3 linked regions of the Homo sapiens genome follow. The protein of the gene in region 2 interacts with the protein of the main gene of each other region in a pairwise test. Each region holds a gene or a part of one and is shown on either strand. Other genes may lie near its edges.

Region 1 (3,651 bases), on a different chromosome or scaffold from region 2:
ATAGAATCTCTTCGAGACAGCAGATTGGGCAAGAGACGGGCTTTTTTTCGCAATACAAGGATAAACACATCCTGAAACTCCAGATAGAAACCTCAGGAATGGGCGAGAGGGTCAGAAGGAACGAGAGACAGTAGGGAAGAGAGAGAGAGAGACAGAGACAGAGGGAGAGATGCAGAGAGACTGAAACGGGAGGAAGAAGCCTGGAACTGTCGGTTCCGTGGAGAGCGGACATGCTATCTGCGCCCAGATCCGAAGGCTTTTTGGGGAGCCTAGAGTCCTGGCCCGGTACCAGGCAGATCTGGGTGCGGCGAATTCCAAGGGAGCGGCGCGGGTTCTCTTCTCCTCCTCCTCTGAGTTGCTTCGGTGCCCCCAAGGCATCACCTTCCTCGAAGGTGGCTTACCCAGGCGGGCGGTGATGCTGTTGTCTCGGGAGTTTACTCAAAGATGGGCCGCTCGGGGCGGCCGGATTAACCCGCTCCCTTCCCTTCCTCCTTCTTGTCTCCCGCAGGTTGCGACATGTGCGCGGACAACCGCAACGGCGAGTGCCCTATGCATGGGCCACTGCACTCGCTGCGCCGGCTTGTGGGCACCAGCAGCGCTGCGGCCGCCGCGCCCCCGCCGGAGCTGCCGGAGTGGCTGCGGGACCTGCCTCGCGAGGTGTGCCTCTGCACCAGTACTGTGCCCGGCCTGGCCTACGGCATCTGCGCGGCGCAGAGGATCCAGCAAGGCACCTGGATTGGACCTTTCCAAGGCGTGCTTCTGCCCCCAGAGAAGGTGCAGGCAGGCGCCGTGAGGAACACGCAGCATCTCTGGGAGGTAAGTGGCCGGCTGCACAGCGCCTCCCCACCGAGCAGGAGCCTTGGCCAGCAGGGAGCCTTGGCCGGCAGGGAGCCTGGCCTTTGGCTGTGGCAACTGCGAAGAGAGCCTCCCTTGGCCCCCAGAGGGTAGCGGAGAATAGATTTCTCTGGTCCTGTAGATGCCTGGTGTCTGAAGCACCTGCAGTAAGGAGGCTGACAGAGCTGGGACTGACACAATAGCAACCCAGCCAGGGAAACAGCCTACAGGTGTCTGAAGACAGAGTCACCTTAAGCTGCCTCCATTCCAGCTGGAATGGATTTGACCGTTGGTCTCTGTGAATTTTGAGAAAAAGAGAAAACAGCTGAGGAGATGGAGCAGCGGAGGGTGGGCATTAGAATGTTTGAGCTGGGTGACCTTTATGTCCCATTCCAAGCACTTCCAGTGTGTTTCTGTGTAGTGAGCAGAAAGGAACAGAAGCATAGAGGGGAGGAAGGAGAGGCTGGCCCCTTTTCTCAGATAAAAACAATTTTGTCAAAGTTGAACGTGAGAGATCACATGTTTCACAACTTTCAAAGGGCCCAAAGTAAGCAAATTATATTGGGAATCAAAGGGCCCAAATTAAGCAAATTATATTGGGAATCAGAAATCGCAAATTCTGCTGCTTCTCTGATGAACGGAAATTATGTAATCTTCATCAATATGGAAAATCAAAACATGGGAACAGTGTGAGCACTTTGGTGTAACCCAATTGAGGGTAATACTTTAATGGCACAATCTTACCTGAAGCAATTATTTAAAAATAACCTATTTGAAAAATGTCAGCCTGAGGTTTCTCCCAAAACATCATGGTGGATTATTGAGGTTCACTTCTGAAGAGATAGATGCCTATCATTAGGTCATCCCCCTACCAATCTTAGCCACCTCCATCCATGGAAAGTTGCTTATGTAATACAAGATGACAGAAGTCATACCCTTAAACAATATGTAAATCTGACTAACTGGGCAAGTGGTATAATAAAGTAGGAATAGCTAGAAAATAAAGTTTCTTAAATGCCAGGGGTCAGGTTGACATGAACCCCTGGGCTCCATTAATGCATCGTTTCTGCAAGAGATTGCCTCTCATACTTGGCTTGCTGGCCTGTCAAAATGATCTTTTTCACTGTGAGCTGCCTTATATTCACTAAATAAAGCTCATGGGACTCATTAATCCACTCAAATTTTTGATGAGTGCCCACTCTGGCCAGCACTATATTAGGCCATGGAGATACAGTATGAAAAACAGACCTGGTATCCGGAACCCTCCTGTGACTGTTGGGGATGGGGTCCTGAGGCCTGTGTCTGCAAAGCCTCTTTTGATGGAGGAGGAGCTGAGTGTATGAGTCTACAGCCCAGCAGCCCAAAATGAGGACGTGGAAGCCAATGAACTACCTACCCTATAGTTATCTGCTGGAGTGCCCCGGCTCAAAGCATCTGGTTTGGAAACATTTTGGTTTTTGTTTCTGACTAATTAATTGTAACCTCCAATGTGGTTTAAAGTTTATAAAACACTTTTAGGTACTTCTCATGTTCCAGTAGTGTTATTAGGAACTCTAATATCATATAGTTAAAGGTCTGCCAATATTTTTCTAAGAAAATCGTACAGCAATTGTTCAATAGTACAAATTTACTCTACCTGAAAATGTTAAAACTGAACACTATTATATTGCCCTTTGATGCCTATCTATTTTTAGAGTGCCAGGGGACAAAGACATAAACATGAACAAAAATCTCATAGTTCATTGTGGGTTTTTTCCCCCCCAGAAGGCTTTGAATGATTGGGATGTTGGCAGGAGGCCACTACACATATAGACTATAACAATGCATATTAACACTGAAAACTATGAAACCTTTCTTTTCTACCTTTACTTGTACTTGATGAAGTTAAAATTTTGTTGTAGTAAAGAGACTGGGGAATTTAGTCAGTGTTTTTCTTTTTCTTGATACTTCAGTAGATATAAAGTGAATTTTATCTATTGTTCAGGGCATGTGAGTTGAGTGTGCTGGGATGGTTCTTAGAGTTGGTTCTCTGTTAGAAAAAAGACTTGCTGGGTGTATGCTTGGATGATCTACAGGATCCAACTCCTAAATTCAGGACATAATCTATTTTTTTTAATTATCTGTAACAACAGTTAGAATAAGGTACATTTGGGAATTGAAGGGATTTTAAAACTTTAGCCATACAAAATGTGTCAGTCTCCTGGGAGATCACGTGAAATGCGACTAACTGGGGCCAGGTAACTTAGTGCCAATATCCATTTGTAAAATAAAATACTTACTTTATAAAATAGGTTTCAGATTTTTATTAGCATAATGATTTTTAAGATATAGAATATGAGTTTAAAATTTTTAAGCATTATGATTTATTTTTATGAAACATGACCGTTTGAATTGTTACATTTATAATACAATATTCCAAATGTTAGATTGTTCCTTAAATTTTAGTTCTTTCTTTCAAAGCTAAATTTTCTTCTGAAATTTAAAAAAATCATCATATTATTCACATTAGAATCAGTAAGTAGAATACATTGTAGGTCTATCGGAAATGTTTGGCAATAATTGTTTAATGACTCATGTAATAATTATCCATTTCAAAAACTTATTCTTTTAGATGTCTTCCAGAATAGCAAGTCAACAAAATGTATTAAAAAAATTAAAAGCAGTTGAATCATGATTATTTTATTTTAAAAGGCAACTGTAATCATTTCTCTTCCTCACATTTTTTCAAGTCATTTGCTGATGAAGAAATGTCTTTTTATTTCAAGTTCAATACTCAGGTCCTGATGGATCTTACCAGGGTTACTTATCTTTATTTCA
Region 2 (3,651 bases):
TCTCTCCCATTTACTCCATTGAGTGATTCTCAACTAGTGTTGAGGGGCGGGTAGGGAATAAATGTATCTTGAAAAACTGTATTCAATATTGTATTATCATTTTATATTTGAAATATGAAAAACAATCCTATTGTAAAACTACATGTTATACACACTACAAAAAGTAAAACTGGGCAAAATATTCTTGGCTTGTTGGAATACTGAAAAGATATCTGAAAGAGTGTTTCTTGGGGGCACATTGCGCATGCTTACTCACACACACACGGAACCATATCAGAATCATTGATAGTCTTTGTTTATCAGAAGTAGGCATGGGTTTCTATTGAAAAATGCTGATCAAAGGAAATAACACTCCCTATAAAGGGAAGAGAAGTACATTTCTTCAATTGAAAGGCTTTTTTTTTTCTTCCAAAAAAGGGGTAAAGGGAGAAGAAAATGAAAAGAAGTGTGGAGGGATGACAAGGAAATAATCATGTTTTCTAATATCCTTGGGCAATAAATGAGACTGGGAAGGGCAGCATGGAACTTGAAGAGAATTAGGCAGATTTTGCCACAAATTATGTTGTGCCAGCTAACTTGGTTTTTGTTTGTTTTTGTGACCTCTTCTCTCTTTAGGCTGTATCAGCTCTCCAAAGCTGGGAAGCTCTGTGTTCCGGCCATGAACGTCAATGATTCTGTTACCAAACAGAAGTTTGATAACTTGTACTGCTGCCGAGAATCCATTTTGGATGGGTAGGTTGAATGTATATATATTCAAACTTCTAGGGGCTCTGGTCTTCCTTTGGCTTTAAAAGTTTATTAGAGGGACCATTTCATACTGAGCTCAACCAGCTTCCAATTGATATTCTCATGGGCATTGGCCCACACTTTTAACTTTGTGAAGAGGGACTGAGTTTGAGCTATTAACGTTTGAGTTGAGCCCTTGTCTGTTTCCACAGCCTGAAGAGGACCACAGATGTGATGTTTGGTGGGAAACAAGTGGTGGTGTGTGGCTATGGTGAGGTAAATAGCTGGGTCTCAGTGTCTCTTTCTTTTTGTGTACTTATTAGAAATATTGGGTAAAGGAGGCTTGTGCTGTCAATCTAGAGTCACTGATACAAGGTTTAAATTTTTTTAGATAATGTATCTCAAACAATAGCAAAAGCCTTTTATTCAGATTTATGAATAGAAACATACAAAATGAATTGAGTTTTCAGATTTTACCATTTTGCCTTGTGGAATAGATACTAGTATCATCTTCCCCAATTATAACAATAACCTTTAATGAGACTTAATTCAAGTGAATATATAGCATTTTAGCCCCACAAGTGACTTGCAGTAGAATTAAGGGTGGAATCTGAAATGGCATATAGTTGAATATCTCCAAACTGGAATAGGTCACATATTTTGTTGTCTTCAGCAATGACCCAAAGAAGTTCCTGAGCTACGAGGGTATCCTTGAGTAGATTCTTCTCAAGTAAGAGAATAGGAAATTAGAGGTTGCTTAGAGTAAGTTGCTTTTGCTTAGTCTTGTTTCCCTGATGAAAACTGCTATGCAAAGCCCCAGTCCTTCCTATGACATGTCTGCTAAATTACCTCTCTAACTGAGGTTCACAACGTAATCTGGGTCTGTTTCTGTTCTGCTTGGGATTGGAGCGTCTGTGCAGCTGCTCACCAGATGACAGGCTATTTCATGAAGGTTAATTCCTGTCTCACAAATAACCTACCTACCCTAAATATCCATGACTTAATGAACCTAACGACTTGACCTTTCTTTTGTTCTGCAGGTAGGCAAGGGCTGCTGTGCTGCTCTCAAAGCTCTTGGAGCAATTGTCTACATTACCGAAATCGACCCCATCTGTGCTCTGCAGGCCTGGTAAGAACAGAGTGATAATACTATTAGATTCACTCTAGGTGCTTTATGTTATTGAGAGTTCATAATTGAGTATATTAATCATTTTTGCAGAAATCACCTAGGGGAAGAGAAGGCTAGGACTGCTCTGTTCTTCTCACTCTAACCCTAGGGCTCTCTGAGAGCCTCTTGGCATTTTTCCTTCCTAGAGGGAGTCTTGGGGACTCTGAAGAGGCCAGTGTATATAGTTTAGCAGAGCTTATCACTCACCATTCCTGTGAGGTGGCACTGGATCCAACTAGAAGGGGATCTTGTCTCATTTCATGACCATCTTCCCTCCCACTGCCTTCTTGCTTTACTCATAGTGTTCCTTTCTTTTCTTCCAGCATGGATGGGTTCAGGGTGGTAAAGCTAAATGAAGTCATCCGGCAAGTCGATGTCGTAATAACTTGCACAGGTAAATAACTTGCATAGAGAAGTGTTTATTCAGAGGCTAAATCTTGAAAGTAGTCTGAGTGACTTTCATACAAAGGAGGTGAGACCTCTGTTCAGTATAAAGGTCTCAGAACTAGAATAAGCTATCAGAACCTTAACATGTTTTCCAGAGTAAAAAACTTTTTTCCCTGGTGACTTTTTATACTGCTTGATCTGAAGACCAGATAGCCTAAGGAGCGGTTATGCATGTCTTCTCTCAGAATGTCTACATGTTCTTTAATGCCAGCAAGCCTCTGGTCTCCTATGTTCTACCTGAAAGCCAGCCAGTACCTTTGTTGCCCGGCATCTCTTTCCTTAACCACCCATCTTTTCTTTTAGGAAATAAGAATGTAGTGACACGGGAGCACTTGGATCGCATGAAAAACAGTTGTATCGTATGCAATATGGGCCACTCCAACACAGAAATCGATGTGGTAAGGCTTCTCTCATTTGTTGCTAGGCATTTCTCTACTACCTTTCATTAATAACCATAGTCAACTGTGCTTTCTTCCTTTCAGACCAGCCTCCGCACTCCGGAGCTGACGTGGGAGCGAGTACGTTCTCAGGTGGACCATGTCATCTGGCCAGATGGCAAACGAGTTGTCCTCCTGGCAGAGGTACACACAGAGAAGGACCCTGGCAGAGCAGCACAAGCAGAGTAGTTAGATCTATGAGGGGGGAGGGGAGGGAAACAAATATTAGGCCTATGTTTCCCTGAATTTTATCTTTGGAGAGAGAGATATTTCACAAATTGGTCCCCAAAATAAAACCACTTTAAAAAAATCTACTTTTTACTAAGTAACACTATTTCCTAACCACAGCTGATTCTTTAACCTTTCAGACTCAGATGGATTTGCAGAAAATAGGAAAAAGCCTAGAGTCCTGATCTGGAACTGTAATTCTTCCTCTTCCAACTGAGTCTAGAGGGGTGTAAAGTCCTCTCCCGCTTTGGCTTGACTTGTATGCCATTGGAATCTGAGACAGAGCTCATCCCAGGGCTCTCTCTTACCTTTCCAGGGTCGTCTACTCAATTTGAGCTGCTCCACAGTTCCCACCTTTGTTCTGTCCATCACAGCCACAACACAGGTATGTGGCAAAATGCCTGCTTACACTGCACTGCAATTTGTGGAACTGGGCGTAGATCAGTTCCAGTGAGGGTGTACTGTACTATGTTCTCATCATCCTATTCTTTTTTGATGTAATAAATTGTGGAAACAGGTATTCTTAAGTATAGAAAAGAGTCACTAAGTCAGTATTCGTTGAATTGGCTGTTTTAGTTGAGAATATAATGTTCCAGCTTAGTTTTATTTGATTTGTTCTTTCGTTAGGAACTAAACAAAAACAAC
Region 3 (3,751 bases), on a different chromosome or scaffold from region 2:
AGTATACTGACATATTCAGGAAAAAAGAGCTTGAAATCCATAGAGGAGTATAACATATTCATTCACGGGGAACACAACAGTGTAAAAATGTAAACTCAGCTTAAATTATTTACAATTTAGTGCCTTACCTGTAGCCGCCGACATTACAAGCAAATTTGGGCTGCTGTGCTCTGCTTCCCAAATCAACCCTGTAAATTTATAGAATGGAAACAGAAAGTAAAACACCAGTATCAGCAAGAAAATCTACACAACAAAACAGGGAAAGCCCAGAGTGAGACTGGAGACTGTGTTGAGCTGGTACTTGTGTGTGACACTTGCAGTGTCTGTTGGAGGGGGTTAGCGGCAGAGATGTTGGGGAGGTTTGTAGCCTGCCTAGACGGCAGATGAAAGAATGGGTAGAATAAAAGTTTTGAATTTTCCACTTCACTTCATTGCACAATCTGAGGCAGCCCCTGAAAACACGATGCCAAGAGCCCTAGGTAATAGCAGTGTCCACCAGGAAAATTGGGTTTGTTAAGGCAGCATGGCTCCAGAGTTCTGCTAATAACAACCTGAAACCAACAGAGTGGGAGAGGAATTATGTTTTTTAAAAAAATTCTTTCAACAGAACACAAAGACTGGAATGGAAGTAGACTAGGATATCAGAGTGAATCATGCATACTAAGGGTAGGTGTTAGTTCATAGAAATAAATATATATATTGCTACCTACATATATACTTAGAAGATATGTAAACCGTATTTCTTCAATTCAGAGAATAAATCATTTAGGACCAAAGGTTTGCCAAGTGTAGCTCTGGCTGGGGAGGAGCCCCCGTGGGAAGGTGTGCGTCTTCTCCCAGAGGTCACTATCATCGCGGGAGCTCCTGCCCTGCAGGGAGCACCTGGCCTGGCACCCGCAGCCATTCTCTACAAGGGGTGCAGATGCGCAGATGCGCAGATGCTCAGAGGTGACAGAAACAGAGCATCTCCCACCCATTCCTTCATCAAACAGCCAGGAGTGAGGAAGAGGACCCTCCTGAGTGAGGACTGAGGATCCACCCTCACCCACATAGTGGGACCACAGAATCCAGCTCAGCCCCTCTTGTCAGCCCTGGTACACACTGGCAATGATCTCACCCCGAGCACACCCCTCCCCCCAATGCCACTTCGGGCCGACTCAGAGTCAGAGACTTGGTCTGAGGGGAGCAAACACAATCGGCAGAGGATGGCGGTCCAGGCTCAGTCTGGCATCCAAGTCAGGACCTTGAGGGATGACCAAAGGCCCCTCCCACCCCCAACTCCCCCGACCCCACCAGGATCTACAGCCTCAGGATCCCCGTCCCAATCCCTACCCCTACACCAACACCATCTTCATGCTTACCCCCACCCCCCCATCCAGATCCCCATCCGGGCAGAATCCGGTTCCACCCTTGCCGTGAACCCAGGGAAGTCACGGGCCCGGATGTGACGCCACTGACTTGCGCATTGGAGGTCAGAGGACAGCGAGATTCTCGCCCTGAGCAACGGCCTGACGTCGGCGGAGGGAAGCAGGCGCAGGCTCCGTGAGGAGGCAAGGTAAGACGCCGAGGGAGGACTGAGGCGGGCCTCACCCCAGACAGAGGGCCCCCAATAATCCAGCGCTGCCTCTGCTGCCGGGCCTGGACCACCCTGCAGGGGAAGACTTCTCAGGCTGAGTCGCCACCACCTCACCCCGCCACCCCCCGCCGCTTTAACCGCAGGGAACTCTGGCGTAAGAGCTTTGTGTGACCAGGGCAGGGCTGGTTAGAAGTGCTCAGGGCCCAGACTCAGCCAGGAATCAAGGTCAGGACCCCAAGAGGGGACTGAGGGCAACCCACCCCCTACCCTCACTACCAATCCCATCCCCCAACACCAACCCCACCCCCATCCCTCAAACACCAACCCCACCCCCAAACCCCATTCCCATCTCCTCCCCCACCACCATCCTGGCAGAATCCGGGCTTTGCCCCTGCAATCAACCCACGGAAGCTCCGGGAATGGCGGCCAAGCACGCGGATCCTGACGTTCACATGTACGGCTAAGGGAGGGAAGGGGTTGGGTCTCGTGAGTATGGCCTTTGGGATGCAGAGGAAGGGCCCAGGCCCTCCTGGAAGACAGTGGAGTCCTTAGGGGACCCAGCATGCCAGGACAGGGGGCCCACTGTACCCCTGTCTCAAACTGAGCCACCTTTTCATTCAGCCGCGGGAATCCTAGGGATGCAGACCCACTTCAGCAGGGGGTTGGGGCCCAGCCCTGCGAGGAGTCAAGGGGAGGAAGAAGAGGGAGGACTGAGGGGACCTTGGAGTCCAGATCAGTGGCAACCTTGGGCTGGGGGATCCTGGGCACAGTGGCCGAATGTGCCCCGTGCTCATTGCACCTTCAGGGTGACAGAGAGTTGAGGGCTGTGGTCTGAGGGCTGGGACTTCAGGTCAGCAGAGGGAGGAATCCCAGGATCTGCCGGACCCAAGGTGTGCCCCCTTCATGAGGACTGGGGATACCCCCGGCCCAGAAAGAAGGGATGCCACAGAGTCTGGCCGTCCCTTGTTCTTAGCTCTGGGGGAACCTGATCAGGGATGGCCCTAAGTGACAATCTCATTTGTACCACAGGCAGGAGGTTGGGGAACCCTCAGGGAGATAAGGTGTTGGTGTAAAGAGGAGCTGTCTGCTCATTTCAGGGGGTTGGGGGTTGAGAAAGGGCAGTCCCTGGCAGGAGTAAAGATGAGTAACCCACAGGAGGCCATCATAACGTTCACCCTAGAACCAAAGGGGTCAGCCCTGGACAACGCACGTGGGGGTAACAGGATGTGGCCCCTCCTCACTTCTGTTTCCAGATCTCAGGGAGTTGATGACCTTGTTTTCAGAAGGTGACTCAGGTCAACACAGGGGCCCCCATCTGGTCGACAGATGCAGTGGTTCTAGGATCTGCCAAGCATCCAGGTGGAGAGCCTGAGGTAGGATTGAGGGTACTCCTGGGCCAGAATGCAGACAGGGGGCCCCATAGAAATCTGCCCTGCCCCTGCGGTTACTTCAGAGACCCTGGGCAGGGCTGTCAGCTGAAGTCCCTCCATTATCCTGGGATCTTTGATGTCAGGGAAGGGGAGGCCTTGGTCTGAAGGGGCTGGAGTCAGGTCAGTAGAGGGAGGGTCTCAGGCCCTGCCAGGAGTGGACGTGAGGACCAAGCGGACTCGTCACCCAGGACACCTGGACTCCAATGAATTTGGACATCTCTCGTTGTCCTTCGCGGGAGGACCTGGTCACGTATGGCCAGATGTGGGTCCCCTCATCTCCTTCTGTACCATATCAGGGATGTGAGTTCTTGACATGAGAGATTCTCAAGCCAGCAAAAGGGTGGGATTAGGCCCTACAAGGAGAAAGGTGAGGGCCCTGAGTGAGCACAGAGGGGACCCTCCACCCAAGTAGAGTGGGGACCTCACGGAGTCTGGCCAACCCTGCTGAGACTTCTGGGAATCCGTGGCTGTGCTTGCAGTCTGCACACTGAAGGCCCGTGCATTCCTCTCCCAGGAATCAGGAGCTCCAGGAACCAGGCAGTGAGGCCTTGGTCTGAGTCAGTGTCCTCAGGTCACAGAGCAGAGGGGACGCAGACAGTGCCAACACTGAAGGTTTGCCTGGAATGCACACCAAGGGCCCCACCCGCCCAGAACAAATGGGACTCCAGAGGGCCTGGCCTCACCCTCCCTATTCTCAGTCCTGCAGCCTGAGCATGTGCTGGCCGGCTGTACCCTGAGGTGCCCT

What was found.
Region 1: the proteins of AHCYL1 (region 2) and PRDM6 interact in binary tests that used the Homo sapiens proteins (3 or more experiments, as listed by UniProt).
Region 3: the proteins of AHCYL1 (region 2) and MAGEA2B interact in binary tests that used the Homo sapiens proteins (3 or more experiments, as listed by UniProt).

The regions. Positions count from the first base shown.
Region 1 is NC_000005.10:123,099,146-123,102,796, forward strand, and holds part of PRDM6 (putative histone-lysine N-methyltransferase PRDM6), read left to right. Parts: intron 1-81; exon of another isoform or gene 82-392; intron 393-508; coding exon 509-816; intron 817-3,651. UniProt on the Homo sapiens protein: Putative histone methyltransferase that acts as a transcriptional repressor of smooth muscle gene expression.
Region 2 is NC_000001.11:110,015,729-110,019,379, forward strand, and holds part of AHCYL1 (S-adenosylhomocysteine hydrolase-like protein 1), read left to right. Parts: intron 1-615; coding exon 616-732; intron 733-938; coding exon 939-1,002; intron 1,003-1,766; coding exon 1,767-1,855; intron 1,856-2,217; coding exon 2,218-2,288; intron 2,289-2,644; coding exon 2,645-2,739; intron 2,740-2,823; coding exon 2,824-2,922; intron 2,923-3,146; coding exon of another isoform or gene 3,147-3,191; exon of another isoform or gene 3,192-3,322; coding exon 3,323-3,391; intron 3,392-3,651. UniProt on the Homo sapiens protein: Multifaceted cellular regulator which coordinates several essential cellular functions including regulation of epithelial HCO3(-) and fluid secretion, mRNA processing and DNA replication.
Region 3 is NC_000023.11:152,713,128-152,716,878, forward strand, and holds the start of MAGEA2B (melanoma-associated antigen 2), read left to right. Parts: upstream 1-1,500; 5' UTR 1,501-1,555; intron 1,556-1,719; exon of another isoform or gene 1,720-1,801; intron 1,802-1,951; 5' UTR 1,952-2,030; intron 2,031-2,829; 5' UTR 2,830-2,949; intron 2,950-3,520; exon of another isoform or gene 3,521-3,618; intron 3,619-3,751. UniProt on the Homo sapiens protein: Reduces p53/TP53 transactivation function through recruitment of HDAC3 to p53/TP53 transcription sites. Also represses p73/TP73 activity. Proposed to enhance ubiquitin ligase activity of RING-type zinc finger-containing E3 ubiquitin-protein ligases.